Linked DNA regions of Homo sapiens: all the other regions are linked to region 2. Evidence: fine-mapped expression QTL. A gene starts in region 2. Each other region holds a variant in brackets. All regions are shown on one strand. Distances are between the middles of the regions.

Region 1 (5,229 bases), 190 kb before region 2:
AAGACTCCGTCTCAAAAAAAAAAAAAAAATCACTCTATGACCTATGATTATTTTTCCTTAATTGGAATGAAAAACACCACTACCATTGGGAGTACCACTATTATGTTAACAAGAAGTGCTTCTATTTGTTACAATTCTGCTGCTGTTACTATGTATTCATTTAAAAGAATCTGTGTATCATGAATTTTCATATCATTTGCATTTAATTTTTAAAATAGCCCTGTGAGGTAAGTGGTGCAGGTATTTTTGTTATTTCTCCATTTGCCAGTTGAGGAAATGAAAGTATAGTGAAGTGTGCTACTTATGATTATTTTGTTAAAACTAGAACTTGAACTTAGGTCTTCTGACTGGTGACTGAATTCTGTGCTTTTCATGGTATATCAGTGTTCAGGATATGTTTCCCTGCTATAAATCTGCTAAACTCTAAAGGTCTCTTTTTAAACTATCTTTTTAATGAAAGGATTTGTCTTTTTATTGTACAGTCTTCATAGTTAATACATTCATCCATTCATTTATTTACTCCTTCAACATATATTATTGTAACCATTCTTTATTTGCTAGGTCCTTGCAATAGCAAGACATACACCCCTGCCTTCATGGAGCTTTCACTATAGTGAGAGGGACAGATGTTAATAAACAATTACATTAAAATATTTATAATTAAAAGAAAAGTGCTGGAACCAAGAACAACTAACAAAGAATAACTTGATTGAGTTTGGGGGTTGGCTTGGTGGTGACGGTGAAAGACTTCCCAAAGGAAGTTACATTTAAACTGAGACTGGAAGGGCAAACAGCTATTAACTAGGAGAAGGGATAAAGAGAAGAGGGTGTTACACTGAGAGAAGAACATGGATGAAGGGTATCTCCCTTCCTCTCTTTCTTCCTATCACAATTTATAATGGTTCTTTTTCATTTTTTTTATTATTTTAAAATGTATTTTAAGTATAAATTAATAGTTACAAATCATAGTACTGAATTTTTCTCTCAGTACATTCTTCAAGAAAATCAATTGTTGGGACTGCTTAGGAGGGAGAGCCTGTGGTGAGTTTACATTGCAAGTTCCATTGGTTGTCATGCAGTGAGGCCATGGAGAGCATTCGTTTTGCTGCTCTTAACTTCATCAGTGCTTTTATGCTGACAGTTTTTGCTGGTGCAACACATTGAATCTTTCCAAAGGAATAGTGATACACCTCTGCCTAAATAATGACTATTTCCATCTAAACCGATTCATCTGGTATATTACATGAACAAATTTGTAAGACTCCATGGTTGAAAACCATAGTTTATCAAGTTTTTTCCTTTACTTCTAACTAAGATAGGGACCCAGGCAATTTTTCTTTTTCTTGCTTCTACACTGTCATCTGTTGACCACAGTGAGCATTCTGTATAGCATTTAGTCCCACATGTTGCTGTGGTTGAAAATCGATATGGATTTCCCACAAAAGGGAAATCTCAGGAGATGAATATTATAATCTATCAGAATTTCACTTTAAGGACTCATTTTAAAAAATAAAGCATTGCCATTGTTATAAATTATCGATTGTGTTTATAAATAGTGTAGGAGCATGCTAGAATTGACTAAGGCATTTAGCAAGTAGGAAAGAAGGTTGAAGAGGAAGTTGGCTAGAAAAAGCAAAGGATTAATAATTCTTTGACTTGACTGAGATTGCTGAGCACATTTATCAAGCAAAGGTGATGGCACTTGCTTGGAATGAATCCAAAGCACAGTGTGATGCTAAGCATTGTTGTAACAGGGAGACAGATGTAGAGCCACACTATTATAGATTTCTTTTGTCAGACAAAATAGACTTTGCAAGCACATCAACAGTTGTTCATGATATATTTTTCCAGCCGCGTCAGTTTATATAAGAGTAAAATGATGTCGTTGAAAGACAATGTACTATATATACAGGTACCCAATCTTCGTCTTGTATCTCAGTAGTGCCACCTTCTTCTTATATGACCTAAAGTGATACTCTAAAATCTCTCTGGGCCTCAGTTACCTTATTACTAAAATTAGGAAAATAACTTAATGAAGTAATAAAACTTGATATTCATAATTATGGCCCTGTGACAGCAAAAGACTTGGAGAGTCTGAAATATTCACTAATTTTTATAGTGTTAGCTTTGTAATTCTTGTAGCACTTTACTCCATTATTAAGAATAACTAATGAATCAGAACTCCCTATTGCTGAGCTATAAGAAGAATAGAGTATATGCCATGTTGCTTGTTATGTGTGCTGACATATTGCCTATAAGCCATTATAAATACATTAAAGAAGACATTCATTTATTCTGTCAGTGCTGCCCTGTGAGCAAAAGGTTAGCCAACTTTTTCTTCCTGTTCCCTGCCTAATGCTTTTCTATCCCTCTTTGAATTTAGGAGCATGTATCCCGTTTGGAAATCTTTTCTCGAGGGAACAATGCAGGTAGCCCAGTCTCGGATGAATATATGTGAAAACTATAAAAACTTCATTTCTGAGCCTGCAAGGACAGTGAGAAGCTTAAAAGAACAGCAACTAAAAAGGGTATTGTTTTTATTTCTGTTCTTATATGCATTTTAATATCCCAGTGCTACATTTATAATCTGCAAGGTTATGCTAAATTTTATTTAAAACTATATGGTCCCATATGTTTCTGGTTGACATTTTACTAGGATTTTCTGATTTCAACATGTTCTCATTAAGTACTATGTTTTATTAACTGCTAAAAATGAATGTAATTCAAATCCATGGACGTTCAAAAAGCTCAGTAAATACTTTTTAGTAATACCGCTTTTCGGCATAATTCAAGTACATAGATCTACTTAGTTTCACAATATCGGTATAGTTTGATGTGTATTAGAATAGTTACAAGGTTATTAATCCCACTAGTTCTTGAAAAAAGTTTACATTAATTTGTCTTACTTTCAACTTGACCCATTTTGTATAATAATTTAAAGGAAATT[A/G]ACACATTTTGACTAAACATAAAAAACTTACTTTAAAAAACCTGATGGACTCTAAACTTTAATTATATGGGTTACACATGAGTAAATGTTTTCAAATGGACATATTTTATTACACAGAAATAAAAAATTCATAGGAAAATGGCATTGCTTAATGTGACTTTTTAGAAAAGTTGGCTGTTGAAAATAGGTGATTGAATTGTGTTCTTTTGGAAATAGAGTTACAAAAATTGAGATTATCATTATACCTAATAAGTAATTAAAATTTTCTTGTGGAAGTATTAATACTTTAGAAAATATTAAAGTAAAAGAAAGAAAATATTAAAGTAATTATTTCGGGAAATAATATTTTAGAAGCCATCCAGTGTTTTGATTCTAATTGTCATTAGGATTTTCAGAACATTTTTACAAACACCTTTCCCACCAAAAACCCCCCAATTTTCCGTTTGCCAAAGATGATTCTAGTAGCATGAAATCAATATGTTAGATGTATATGTGTCTTTATGTAAAATGTTAATTTCTTTAGAGCACTCACCTAATATTAGTCAGTTAAACATATTTGTATAAGAATGCCTGTGTTTTATCTTTGCCAAAAAATATCTCTTTCAAAACAAACATAGTGAGTAACCTATGTGATCACTGGCCAGTGATTTTGAGTTGGAAGAAAGTGTGTGTGTGTGTGTGTTTGTGTGTGTGTGTGTGTGTGTCTGATTGTGCAGAAAGAGGGTGTAAGGTAGGGGCAGAGAATTAATACTAGTATAACTTCCCAACCAGGAGGAAATACTGCATTTCAAATTTCCAGTGCATTCATCAGATCTAATTGAATTACTGCCACCTTACTCAATATCAGAATATTTAGAGAGTTTAACTACCTCTGGTGCTTTTCTCTTCCATTGATGAAGTAATCTCAGACCTGAATTTAACTGACATTCCTGGGCAAAGAATGTTTGATAAGGCCGGGTGTGGTGGCTCACGCCTGTAATCCCAGCACTTTGGATGGCCAAGCCGGGTGGATCACCTGAGGTCAGGAATTCAAGACCAGCCTGACCAATATGGTGAAACCCCATCTCTACTAAAAATACAAAAATTAGCCAGGTGTGGTGGCGTGCACCTGTAGTTCCAGCTACTCGGGAGGCTGAGACAGGAGAATTGCTTGAACCCGGGAGGTGGAGATTGCAGTGAGCTGAGATCGTGCCACTGCCCTCCAGCCTGGGTGACAGAGTGAGACTCTATCTCAAAAAAAAAAAAAAAAAAAAAAGAATCTTTGGTAAGATTCAACAAATGCTCATGTCTGTGAATTAACTTGTTTTATATTATTGCTGATGATCTATGTTACATCTAAGCAATTGTTAAATATTCAGTACATATTGGGTATACCTGTCAGGACTCTGAGATAGCAAATGAAAGAAACCTCCTTCAAACTGCTTTAAGCCAAGAAGGGAATGTATCTGCTTGTATAACTGAAAATTGAAGGACTTCAAGCATGGGTGGATCTAGGGGTTCAAATGATGGTATTAGAATTCAGACTTTCTTTCCATCCATTAGCTCTGCTTTTCTGAATGGCTTCACTCACTAACAACTCTCTCCACATGGTGACCCCCAATGTGCCAGATTTATAAATCTTAAAGGTAGCAATCCCAGATTTTTCATTTTCCCAAATGACCAGAATTGTTTTGCATAGCAGCTGCATCATTTGGCATTCCCACCAACAGTGCACAAGGGCTCCAATTTCTCTACAGCCTTGCCAACATCTGTTATCCTTTTAAAGAATAATAGCCACCTAACAGGTGTGAGGTAATTAATATTTTATTGTGGCTTTGATCTGTATTTCACTGATGGTTGGTGATATTAAGCAATCTAATATTTTTTATTATCAATTTTTTCCTCCACTATTAGCTTCTTACTTTTTAAATCCTATATTCTTTTAGTAATTACCTTAGAGATTATAATATCCCTCCCTAACTTATTACATTACCTTGAATCATTAATCTTACTATTCCCCAATCCTTGTTCCAAATTAACTTTTTTTTTTTGAGACAGAGTCTCGCTCTGTCACCCAGGCTGGAGTGCAGTGGCATGATCTCGCTCACAGCAACCTCTGCCTCTTGGGCTCAGGTGATCCTCCCACCCCAGTCTCCTGAGTGGCTGGGATTACAGGCGTGTGCCACCACACCTGGCTAATTTTATTGTATTTTTAGTAGAGACAGGGTTTCACCATGTTGGCCAGGCTGGTCCTGAACTCCTGACCTCAAGTGATCTGCCTGCCTCAGCCTCCAAAAGTGCGG
Region 2 (5,215 bases):
CTCCACCACCCCCACCACCCCTGGGCAGCAGCCAAGGGCTGATGAGGCACTAGGGAGAGAATGAACCCAGCACAGGCAGCAGGGGCAGGGCCCCAGCACAGGCAGCCCTTTGTGACCACGGACCCACATACACTTACCAGGGGCCCTGGTGGGTGGTGGGAGTGACACTGTTTGGCTCCGGCTGCAGCTTCTTTGAGAACTTGTCCAGCAGCTCAGCCTTCTCTAAGAGATGGTTATCTGGAGAGTGCAAGAGAGTGAGCCTGGGGCAGAGACAGATACCCAGCAGCCCCCTGGCATGCAATTTATCTCCGGCTAAAAGGGCTGAAGGAGCCCAGAGATGCTAGGGATGGGGAAGCTTCTGGCAGGCTGGCCTCTGCCCTGTGCCTGAGGGGCATCTGTGCAGTTCTACAGGACCTTCAGCCCTAGCAGTGTCCTCATAGCACCGGTCCCCAGGCCCACGTGGAAGAGGACCTGCTCTCCCAGGGACAGAAGGATGACCACTGCGGGGTACTGCCCGCTGAGGGTCCTGAGGGAAGGAAGGGGCCTGGGATTGATTCATCCCTGCCTCAGAGCAAGGCTTAGCCCCAGAAAGTGATGAAATAAACCGAGCTCTACCTGTCAATGGCCTTTGGCAAGTCACTTCCCCTCCAAGGGCTCTAGCTTTCTGCACTTAAAAATAATCCCCAGCCGGGCGCGGTGGCTCACACCTGAATTCCCAGCGCTCTGGGAGGCCGAGGCGGGCGGATCACGAGGTCAGGAGATCGAGACCATCCTGGCTAACACGGTGAAACCCCCATCTCTACTAAAAAATACAAAAAATTAGCCAGGCGTGGTGGCAGGCGCCTGTAGTCCCAGCTACTCGGGAGGCTGAGACGGGAGACAGGCGTGAACTTGGGAGGCAGAGCTTGCAGTGAGCGGAGATCACACCACTGCACTCCAGCCTGGGCAACAGAGCAAAGACTCCATCTCAAATAAATAAATAAATAAATAATCCCAACTTCCCCAGCCCTGGTGTAAGGTACCCCCAGGCCAGAATAGAAAGTCCTTGAGCAATTATCCAGCCGACATTCTGGAGGTTGGTGGTTTGACCCTGGAACACCCTCCCCCATCAACAGTCACTTCCTCTTTTCTCACCAGTTCCAGGGGAGGGTGGGGTGGTAAGTCCGGGCCTAGCTCCCTCCTCATCAACTTCCTTCCCACACTCAGTGCCCTGTCACCTTGACTGAGGCCCTGGGCCTGGCCTAGTTCTCATGAAAACCCCACCTCAGCCCCCAGGGTACTGCAGCACCCAGCAAACCTAAAGAAGGTCTCTATACCCAATTAACAAGTAAGAAGACTGAGGCTTAGCGATGTGATCTGCCCAAGGTTTCAAGACTGGCCCTTCAGTCTGATTTCAGCCCTCCAGATCTCTCTAGTCCCTCAGACTCACAGCTCCCTGGGTCGGGGCGGGGGGCAGGGGTTGGGGGGGCGGTGACCCCCTCCCTCAAACTGGACGGTTCCACTGTCTGTCTGAGCAGTGGAGAAGTGTGGCTGCTGGAGGTGGGGGCTGGCCTCGCAACCCTGAAGGTAGAGGACCAGCAGCCTGGAAGCTTGCAGAGAAATTTTCCTGGCTAAGAGCAGATTTGATTGTGGGGGTTTGGCCAAGATTAGCCCCAGTGAGAGAGCCGCAGGGATTGTGGTTAGACTTCCAACCACAGACATACAATCGCAGGCGGCCAGAGGTGCGACACACAGGCACACCTGTTCATCCCCTCTTGAAATGCCACACCCTATCCTGACCAGCTGCCCAGAAACAATTCTGAGAGTCCGACTTCGCTGGGCTCAGCCAGCATCCACCAGCAGCCCGGGGCCCCCTGATGCCCCCTCAGGCTGGGTAGGCTGACAGGGAGGTGTTCCATAAGCCTGTGCCAGCGTCGCCTGTCAGCGGCAGAGCCTGAGATGCACAGCCTCCTCCTTAGAGGTTCCGAGTGTCGCCCCTCTCCGGATGGGCCAATAAGTGGCTGCTCTGGACAAGTCCCGCGTTCTTTCACTGCGCTACCGAGACTAAGTGCACTGATCAAGCCCCTACCCCGGGGACTGCCCGGGTGGGGAGGCAAAAGAGACCCTGCAAAACCAACACCCGAGGACGCACTTGCGTCTCGGAAGCCCAGCTTGTGGGAGGCAGAGCCCGTCCTGAGGGGCGACGAGGGCAGGGGGACCAGGAGGGGCTCGTCCAGGTTCTAACCAGAGCCTGGATGGCAAGGGGCGGAGTCCTGGCAGTCGGGATGGGCGTAACGCACAGGCTCAAGGCATAAGGCACAGCGCACTCGGGTCACAGGCGGAGGAGCCAGCCAAACCCTCTCCCCGCGCCCGTAGCCGCGTCCCCTCAGCCGCCATCCTCTCAGCACCGGGGCGCACTCACAGGCCGGCACCAGCTCCAGGAAAAGCGCCTTTTGCGTACGGTCCCGAAGCCGCAGCTGCCGCACGATGTGGCGTTTCCAGCGCGCTGCGGGGGCACCGGGGACGCCCGGCCCCGCCATGGCCGCGCTCTCCCGCCTAGCGGCGCGTTCCTCCCGCCCAGGACGGCGCCAGGCCGGGGCGGGGCCTCGCGGGGACTCCGTGACGCCAGGGGGCGGGCGGCGGCGGGGAATCCCCGGCTTGTCCCAAGAGGGCTTTGGCGGGGAGGACCGAAGGCCGACGCCGGGAGGATCTGCCTCCGGGAGGAGCCGCCTCCGGGTCTGAACCGCCGGGGCCCCGTCCGAAATGTTCACCTAAGTGGGGGCTCCTGTGGCTGCGAGGGTCATAAGCAGGAGCGAGGTCGGAGCCTCCGGGGAGGCTTCCCCCACGCGGGTGGAGCGCTCCGGAGGCGGGGCCCTCAAGGCCCGGGTGTCTTAACCCCGCCGCGCCCGGGCCGAGTTCGAGAGCCGCTGGTGCTTCCCAGGCCGTCGCGCTCCTGGCCGCGCACCCAGCCAGGGACCCAGAGGCCCTCAGCCCCGGGCTCTGCGCGTACACTGAGGGCGCGGCGCAGCAGGACAGCAAGATAAGGAAGCAGAGACTGAAGGGAGGAATCCCCGCTTTCCGGGGATGATGGCGTTCGAGTTGGGTCTGTGAGGGATGAAATAGGAGTTGGCCAGAGGGAGAGAGGGACTCTAGGCCTCGAGAAGAGCACGTGCAGAGGTTCCGTGACACGAAAACGCCAGGTGGGTGCGGGGCTGGGAGGACAGGAGGCAGAAGGGTTTACGGCTCCACATGGTCGCCGAAATTTTAGGTCCCTGAGAGTAAAGGGGTGCAGCTGATTTCATCTAGAAAGCCCCTGGCCGGGAGGAGAGAACGAGCTTGCTTGCCTGGGGTTGCAAAGGAGTGGGTAGCTGAGACGGCCAGCACCCCAGCATCCTGACTCAGGGCCAGACGCTTCACCCCATTGGGCGGCGTCTGGAGGAGCAGACACATCTCTTGTGGGTACCCTCGAAAGTGAATCATGGGTCGCAGGGAACTGTGGTCAAACCGTCTCTAGCTAGATGCTAGAGAGCCAGCTCTGCAGGCTCAGGCTACTGTGAGACACGAAAGGAGGGACTCGCTGGGCACAGCCTCACCCTGGGGCATGCCAGCAGGCCCTGCCCTCTGAGTGTTGGCAGACTTGAACATCCCTAGGGAACGAGAGAAGTTGGGCAACGATGGGAGAGCAGTGCAGGCCCTGGAGGTGACGAGTCTGTTGAGATTCTGATGGGGATGGGTCAGAGGACGTAGAAAGCAGTGAAGGCCTAGACGCCCCCAGGTCAGTGTAGCCTGCTCTGCTTCCAGTGAGCTGGGCTCAGTCCCCCACATGTCATTGTCTTAGACGCCCATGGCCTTTGCACAGGCCGAGCCTGATGTTTGGAACATCGTCGCCTCTAGGGGGCCTGGCTCCTAATCATGCATCACCTCCTCCAGGAGAACTTTCCTGCCCCTACACTGAGTTCAAGCTTCTCAGACACCAGCCCCAGTTGAGTTCGAGTTATAACCGTCACCAGTTATCACACCATCCTGTAATCTGTGCGGTGCCCCTTAGGGCAGGACCTGGGTCCTAGATGTCTCTGTACCTCTAGCCCCAAACCAGGCCTGACCTGTCTCTTGAAGGAGTATTTGTGTTGAAGATGGGTGGTAACGTTCAGCAAAAGCCATGCCCAGGAGACAGGCACAGTACCCATGGAGACCCAGGGCCAGCTGATGACAGTGATGAATTCCCTTTAGAACTGGCGGACTCTTGGGTGCTTGGAGACACTATATAAATAAGGAACTCTGGCTGTGTGCATGGGAGAGTATATTAACAGGGCTTGGCCTGGCTGTGAGGTGCAGAGATGCCGTTTCTCTCAGGTAAGGAGCCATATTGGGGCAGGGGTTTCCTAATCCTTTTTTGACTCACAAAATACACCTAGGAAATGTTAAATAAATAGTCATTTTTGAGTAGTATATGATAAAGAAGTGATTGATTTTGACTAAAAATATTCATGTTCTATTTTTAGAATATGAAAGATTGTATTATAAAGATCACTTGAAATAAAATTTTAGATAATATATGGAGACAAATTTCTGCTTTTTACATTTAACTTGCTGTTTAATGTATCTCAAATTATTTATGTAAGAGATATATGATTTGACCAATAAATATAAAAAAATGTTATACCATAATCTGGGGACCTAAAGTACTTCACTTTTTTTGTTCTGTTTTGTTTTTGAGACAGGGTCTCTCTCTGTTGCCCAGGCTGGAGTGCAGTGGCCCAATCATGGCTCACTGCAGCCTCATCCTCCTGGGATTAAATGATTCTTCCACCTCAGTCTCCCGAGTAGCTGAGACTACAGGCACATGCCACTATCGCTGGTTTTGTTGTTGTTTTGTTTTGTTTTGTTTTTTGAGACAGAGTCTCTGTTACCCAGGCTGGAGTGCAGTGGCACAATCTCGGTTCATTGCAACCGCCTCCTCCCGGGTTCAAGCGATTCTCATGCATCCGCCTTCCGAATAGGTGGGATTACAGGCATGCGTCACCACACCCAGCTAATTTTTGTACTTTTAGTAGAGACAGGGTTTCACCATGTTGGCCAGGCTGATCTCCAGCTCCTGACCTCAAGTGATCCACCCGCCTCAAGCCTCCCAAAGTGCTGGGACTACAGGTGTGAGTCACCGTGCCCAGCCGCCCAGCTCATTTTAAATTTTTCTTGTAAAGACAAGGTCTCACTATGTTGCCCAGGCTGGTCTCTA
Region 3 (5,229 bases), 100 kb before region 2:
ATATGGTGAAACCTCATCTCTACTAAAAATACAAAAATTGGCTGGGCGTGGTGGTGGGTGCCTGTAGTCCCAGCTGCTTGGGAGGCTGAGGCAGGAGAATCGCTTGAACCCGAAAGGTGGAGGTTGCAGTGAGCTGAGATCGTACCACTGCACTCCAGCCTGGGCGACAGAGCAACACTCTGCTTCAAAAAAAAAAAAAAAAAAAAAAAAAAAAAAAAAAGAATGAAGTTCAATGAAGTTGTGAACCCTTACCTCACAAAATTAACTCAAAATTGATCAATGACCTAACTTATAAGAGAAAACAGAGATAGATCTTTATGACCTTGATTTGGCAGTGCATTCTCAGATTTGACGTTGAAAGCACAAGTAACGAAAGAAAACATAGATAATTAGACTGTATCAAATTAAAAGCTTTTGTGCATCAAAGGACATTATTAAGAATGTGAAATCAACCCAAATGATGAGAGAAAATATTTGCACATCACATATCTGATAAAAGTTTCATATTCAGAATATACAAAGAACTCTTACAACTCAACATCAGAGACAACCCAATATAAAAGTGAACAAAGGAGGCTGGGCACAGTGGCTCACGCTTGTAATCCCAATACTTTGGAAGGCCAAGGTGGGGGAATTGCTTGAGCTGAGGAGTTCAAGAGCAGCCTAGGCAACATAGCAAGACCCTATCTCTACAAAAAAATTTTTTAAATTAGCCAGACATGGTGCTGCATACCTGTTGTCCCAACTACTCGGGAGGCCCAAGTGGGAGGATTACTTGAGCCCAGGAATTGGAAGCTGCAGCAGGCTATGATCATGCTACTACTGTACTGTAGCCTGGGTGACAGAGCAAGACCCTGTCTCTTTAAAAAAAAAAAAAAAAAAAAAAAAGTTGTGTACCAAAAGGTCAATGAAATTAAAAGCTAGTTTTTTGAAAAGATTAACAAAATTGATAAACCTTTTTTTCCCTTTAATTTTAATTTCAGGGGTACATGTGCAGGATGTGCAGATTATGTAGGTAAACTTGTGTCATGGAGGGTTTGGTACACATTATTTTATCACCCACGTATTAAGCCTAGTACCCATTAGTTATTTTTCCTGATTCTCTCCCTCCTCCCACCCTCCACCCTCTACCCTCTGGTAGGCCCTAGTGTGCGTTGTTCCCATGTGTTCTCATAATTTAGCTCCCACTTACAAATGAGAACATGTGGTATTTGCTTTTCTGTTCCTACATTAGTTTGCTAAGGATAGTGGCCTCCAGCTCCATTCATGTTCCTGCAAAGGACACGATCTCATTCTTTTTTATGGCTGCATAGTGTTCTGTGGTGTATATGTACCACATTTTCTTTTCTTTTCTTTTTGTTTTTTGTTTTTGAGGCAGAGTCTTGCTCTGTCACCCAGGCTGGAGAGCAATGGCGTGATCTCGGCTCACTGCAACCTCTGCCTCCCAGGTTCAAGCGATTCTCCTGCCTCAGCCTCCCGAGTAGCTGGGATTATAGGCGCCCACCACCGCGCCCGGCTAATTTTTGTATTTTTGTAGAGCTGGGGTTTTGCCTTGTTGGCCAGGCTGGTTTTGAACTCCTGACCTCAGGTGATCCACCCACCTTGGCCAAAGTGCTGGGGTTACAGGCATGAGCCACCACGCCCGACCATGTACCACATTTTCTATATCCAGTCTATCATTGGTGGGCATTTAGGTTTGTTCCATGTCTCTGCTATTGTGAATGGTGCTGCAATGAACATAAGCAGGCATATGTCTTTATAATAGAACAATGTATATTCCTTTGGGGTTATACTCAGTAACGGGATTGCTGGGTCAAATGGTTTTTCTGTCTCTAGGTCTTTGAGGAATTGCCACCCTGTCTTCCACGATGGTTGAACTAATTTACACTCCTACCAACAGTGTAAAAGTGTTCCTTTTTCTCCACAACCTTGCCAGCATCCGTTGTTTTTTTAATTTTTTATTGATAACCATTCTTATTGGTGTGAGATGGTATCTCATGGTGGTTTTGATTTGCATTTCTGTAATGATCAGTGATGTTGAGTTTTTTTCATATGATTGCTGGCCACATGTATGTCTTATTTTCAGAAGTGTCTGTTCATGTCGTTTGCCCACTTTTGAATGAAGTTGTTTGTTTCTTTCTTGTAAACTTGTTTAAGTTCCTTATAGATGCTGGGTATTAGACCTTTGTCAGATGCTTAGTTTGCAAAAAAAAAAAAAAAAAAAATTCCCATTCTGTAGGATGCCTTTTTATTCCGTTGATAGTTTATTTTGCTGTGCAGAAGCTCTTAAGTTTTATTAGATCCCATTTGTCAATTTTTGCTTTTGTTGCAATTGCTTTTGGCATCTTCATCATGAAATCTTTGCCCATGCCTATGTCCTGAATGGTATTGCCTAGGTTTTCCTCTAGGGTTTTTATAGTTTCGGGTTTTACATTTAAGTCTTTAGTCCATCTTGAGTTGACTTTTGTATATGGTGTAAGGAAGGGGTCCAGTTTCAATTTTCTGCATATGGCTAGCCAGTTATCCCAGCACCATTTATTAAATAGGGAATCCTTTCCCCATTGCTTTTTGTCAGGTTTGTTGAAGATCAGGTGGTTTTAGGTGTGCGGTCTTATTTCTGGGTTCTCTATTCTGTTTCATTGGTCTATGTGTCTGTTGTACTAGTACCATGCTGTTTGGTTGCTGTGGCCCTGTGGTATAGTTTGAAGTTGGGTAGCGTGATGCCTCTAGCTTTGTTCTTTTTGCTTAGGATTGCCTTGGCTATTCAGAATCTTTTGGTTTCATATGAATTTTAAAATAGTTTTTTCTAGTTCTGCAAAGAATGTCAATGGTAGTTCAATGGGAATAGCATTGAATCTATAAATTGCTTAGGGCAGGCT[G/A]GGCACCTGACTCACACCTGTAATCCCAGCACTTTGGGAGGCCACGGTGGGCAGATCACTTTAGGTCAGGAGTTCAAGATCAGTCTGGCCAACATGGTGAAACCCCATCTCCACTAAAAATACAAAAATTAGCCAGGAGTGGTGGCACATGTCTGTAGTCCCAGCTGCTCGGGAGGCTGAGGCAGGAGAATCACTTGAACCCAGGAAGCGCAGTTTGCAGCGAGCTGAGATTATGCCACTGCACTCTAGCCTGGGCGACAGTGAGACTCCTTCTGAAATAAATAAATAAATAAATAAATAGCTTAAGGCAGTATGGCCATTTTTATGATATTGATTTTTCCTGTCCATGAGCATAGTATGTTTTTTCATTTGTTTGTATCATCTCTAATTTATTTGAGCAGCAGTGATTTGTAGTTCTCCTTTTAGAGGTCCTTCAATTCCCTTGTTAGCTGTATTTCTAGGGTTTTTTTTTTTGTTTTTTTTTTGGGTTTTTTTTGGTTTTTTTGTATATCAGTTGTGAAAGGGAGTCCATTAGTAATTTGGCTCTCGGCTTGACTGTTGAAAATCAGCAAACCTTTAGCCAGACTAGTGAGGAAAAAAAGAGAATAACCAAATAAATAAAATCAGAAGTGAAAAAGGAGACATTACAACCAATACCACAGAAATTCAAAGGACCATTAGAGGCTACTGTGAACAATATATGCCAATAAATTGGAAAACCCAGAAGAAATGGATAAATAGGGCTGGGTGTGATGGCTCACACATGTAATCACAGCACTTTGGGAGGCCAAGGTGGGTGGATCACTTGAGGCCAGGAGTTCGCGATCAGCCTGGCCAACATGGCGAAACCCTGTCTCTACTAAAAATACAAAAATTATCCAAGTGTGGTGGCACATGCCTGAAATCCCAGCTGCTCGGGAGGCTGAGGTGTGAAAATCATTTGAACCTGGGAGGCAGAGTTTGCAGTGAGTCAGGATTGCACTGCTGCACTTCATCCTGGGCAACAGACTGAGACTCTGTCTCAAAAAAAGAAAAAAAATGGATAAATTCCTAGATGCATGCAACCTACCAATATGGTTTGGATTTGTGTCCCCACCCAAATCTCATCAAATTATAATAATCCCCAATGTTGGAGGAGGGGCCAGTGGGAGGTAATTAAATCACGGGGATGGAGTTCCCCCTTGCTGTTCTCTTGGTAGTGAGTGAGTCCTCATGAGATCTGGTTGTTTAAAAGTGTGTAGCACCTCCCCCTTCTCTCTTTTCCTCCTGCTCCTGCCACGTAAGACAAAGCTGCTTCCCCTTTGCCTTCTGCCATGATTGTAAGTGTCCGGAAGCCTCCCCAGCCATGCTTCCTGTACAGCCTGCAGAACCATGGGTCAATTAAACTGTTTTTCTTTATAAATTACCCAGTCTCAGGTAGTTCATTATAGCAATGTGAGAATGGACTAATACACCTACCAAGATTGAGCCATGAAGAAATTCAAAACCTGAAGAGATGAAAAAACAAGTAACAAGATCAAAGCTGTAATAGAAAGTCTCTCAGCAAGGAAAAGCCTGGGACTGGGTGGCTTTGCTGCTGAATTTTATCAAACATTTAAAGAATAACTAATACCAATTTTACTCAACCAATTCCAAAAAATAGAGGAGGGGGGAATACTTCCCATCTCATTCTCTAAGGCCAGCATTACCCTGATACCAAAATCAGACAAAGACACATCAAAAAATAAAAACTACAAGCCAGTATCCCTGATGAACATTAATGCAAAAATCCTCAACAAAATACTAGCAAACTGAATTCAACAACGCATTAAAAAGATTATTCATCATGACCAAGTGGAATGTATCCCAAGAATGCAGGGATGGTTCAACATACACAAATCACTCTGTGTGAAGGGCAAAAACTATATGATCATTTCAATTGATACTGAAAAAGCATTTGATAAAATTTAACCTCCCCTTATGATAAAACCCCTCAATAAACTGGGTATAGAGGGAACATATCTCAATACAATAAAAGCCATGTATAACAGACCCACAATGAGTATCATATTGAATGGAGAAAAACTGAATGCGTTTCCTCTAAGATTTGGAACATGACAAGGATGCCCACTTTTACCACTGTTGTTCAACATAGTACTGGAAGTCCTAGCTACAGCAGTCAGACAAAAGAAAGAAAGAGCATCCAAAGTGGAAAGGAAGAAGTCAAATTATTATTCTTTGCAGATGATGTAGGCTTATATTTTGAAAAACCTGAAGACTCCACCAAAATATTCAAACTGATAAACACCTTTAGTAAAGTTGCAGGATACAAAATCAACATACAAAAATAAGTAGCATTTCTATATGTGAA

What was found. PIP is the estimated chance that this variant, and not a neighbour inherited with it, causes the effect.
Region 1: its variant is the best candidate, but not a certain one, in a credible set for the expression of ATG16L2 in whole blood (TOPMed, PIP 0.77).
Region 3: its variant is the best candidate, but not a certain one, in a credible set for the expression of ATG16L2 in whole blood (TOPMed, PIP 0.81).

Annotation. Positions count from the first base shown.
Region 1 is chr11:72,998,289-73,003,517 of GRCh38, reverse strand. FCHSD2 (FCH and double SH3 domains 2) reads left to right here. Exons shown (of 20, transcript NM_014824.3): 5 at 2,384-2,528. Among named protein-coding and RNA genes, the nearest start is that of FCHSD2, 140 kb to the left of the region's middle. The variant A/G (reference allele first, on the strand shown) is at 2,948.
Region 2 is chr11:72,811,750-72,816,964 of GRCh38, reverse strand. ATG16L2 (autophagy related 16 like 2) reads right to left here and starts at 2,554. Exons shown (of 18, transcript NM_033388.2): 1 at 2,402-2,554; 2 at 138-237. The coding sequence starts at 2,519. It overlaps LOC107984421 (a long non-coding RNA gene), which reads left to right and starts at 2,898. Exons shown (of 3, transcript XR_007062771.1): 1 at 2,898-4,332. RefSeq lists enhancers at 1,782-1,931, 3,942-4,071, 4,232-4,291 and silencers at 2,462-2,911, 3,312-3,401.
Region 3 is chr11:72,911,960-72,917,188 of GRCh38, reverse strand. The region is part of intron 9 of FCHSD2 (FCH and double SH3 domains 2); the gene reads left to right. Among named protein-coding and RNA genes, the nearest start is that of ATG16L2, 100 kb to the right of the region's middle. The variant G/A (reference allele first, on the strand shown) is at 2,880.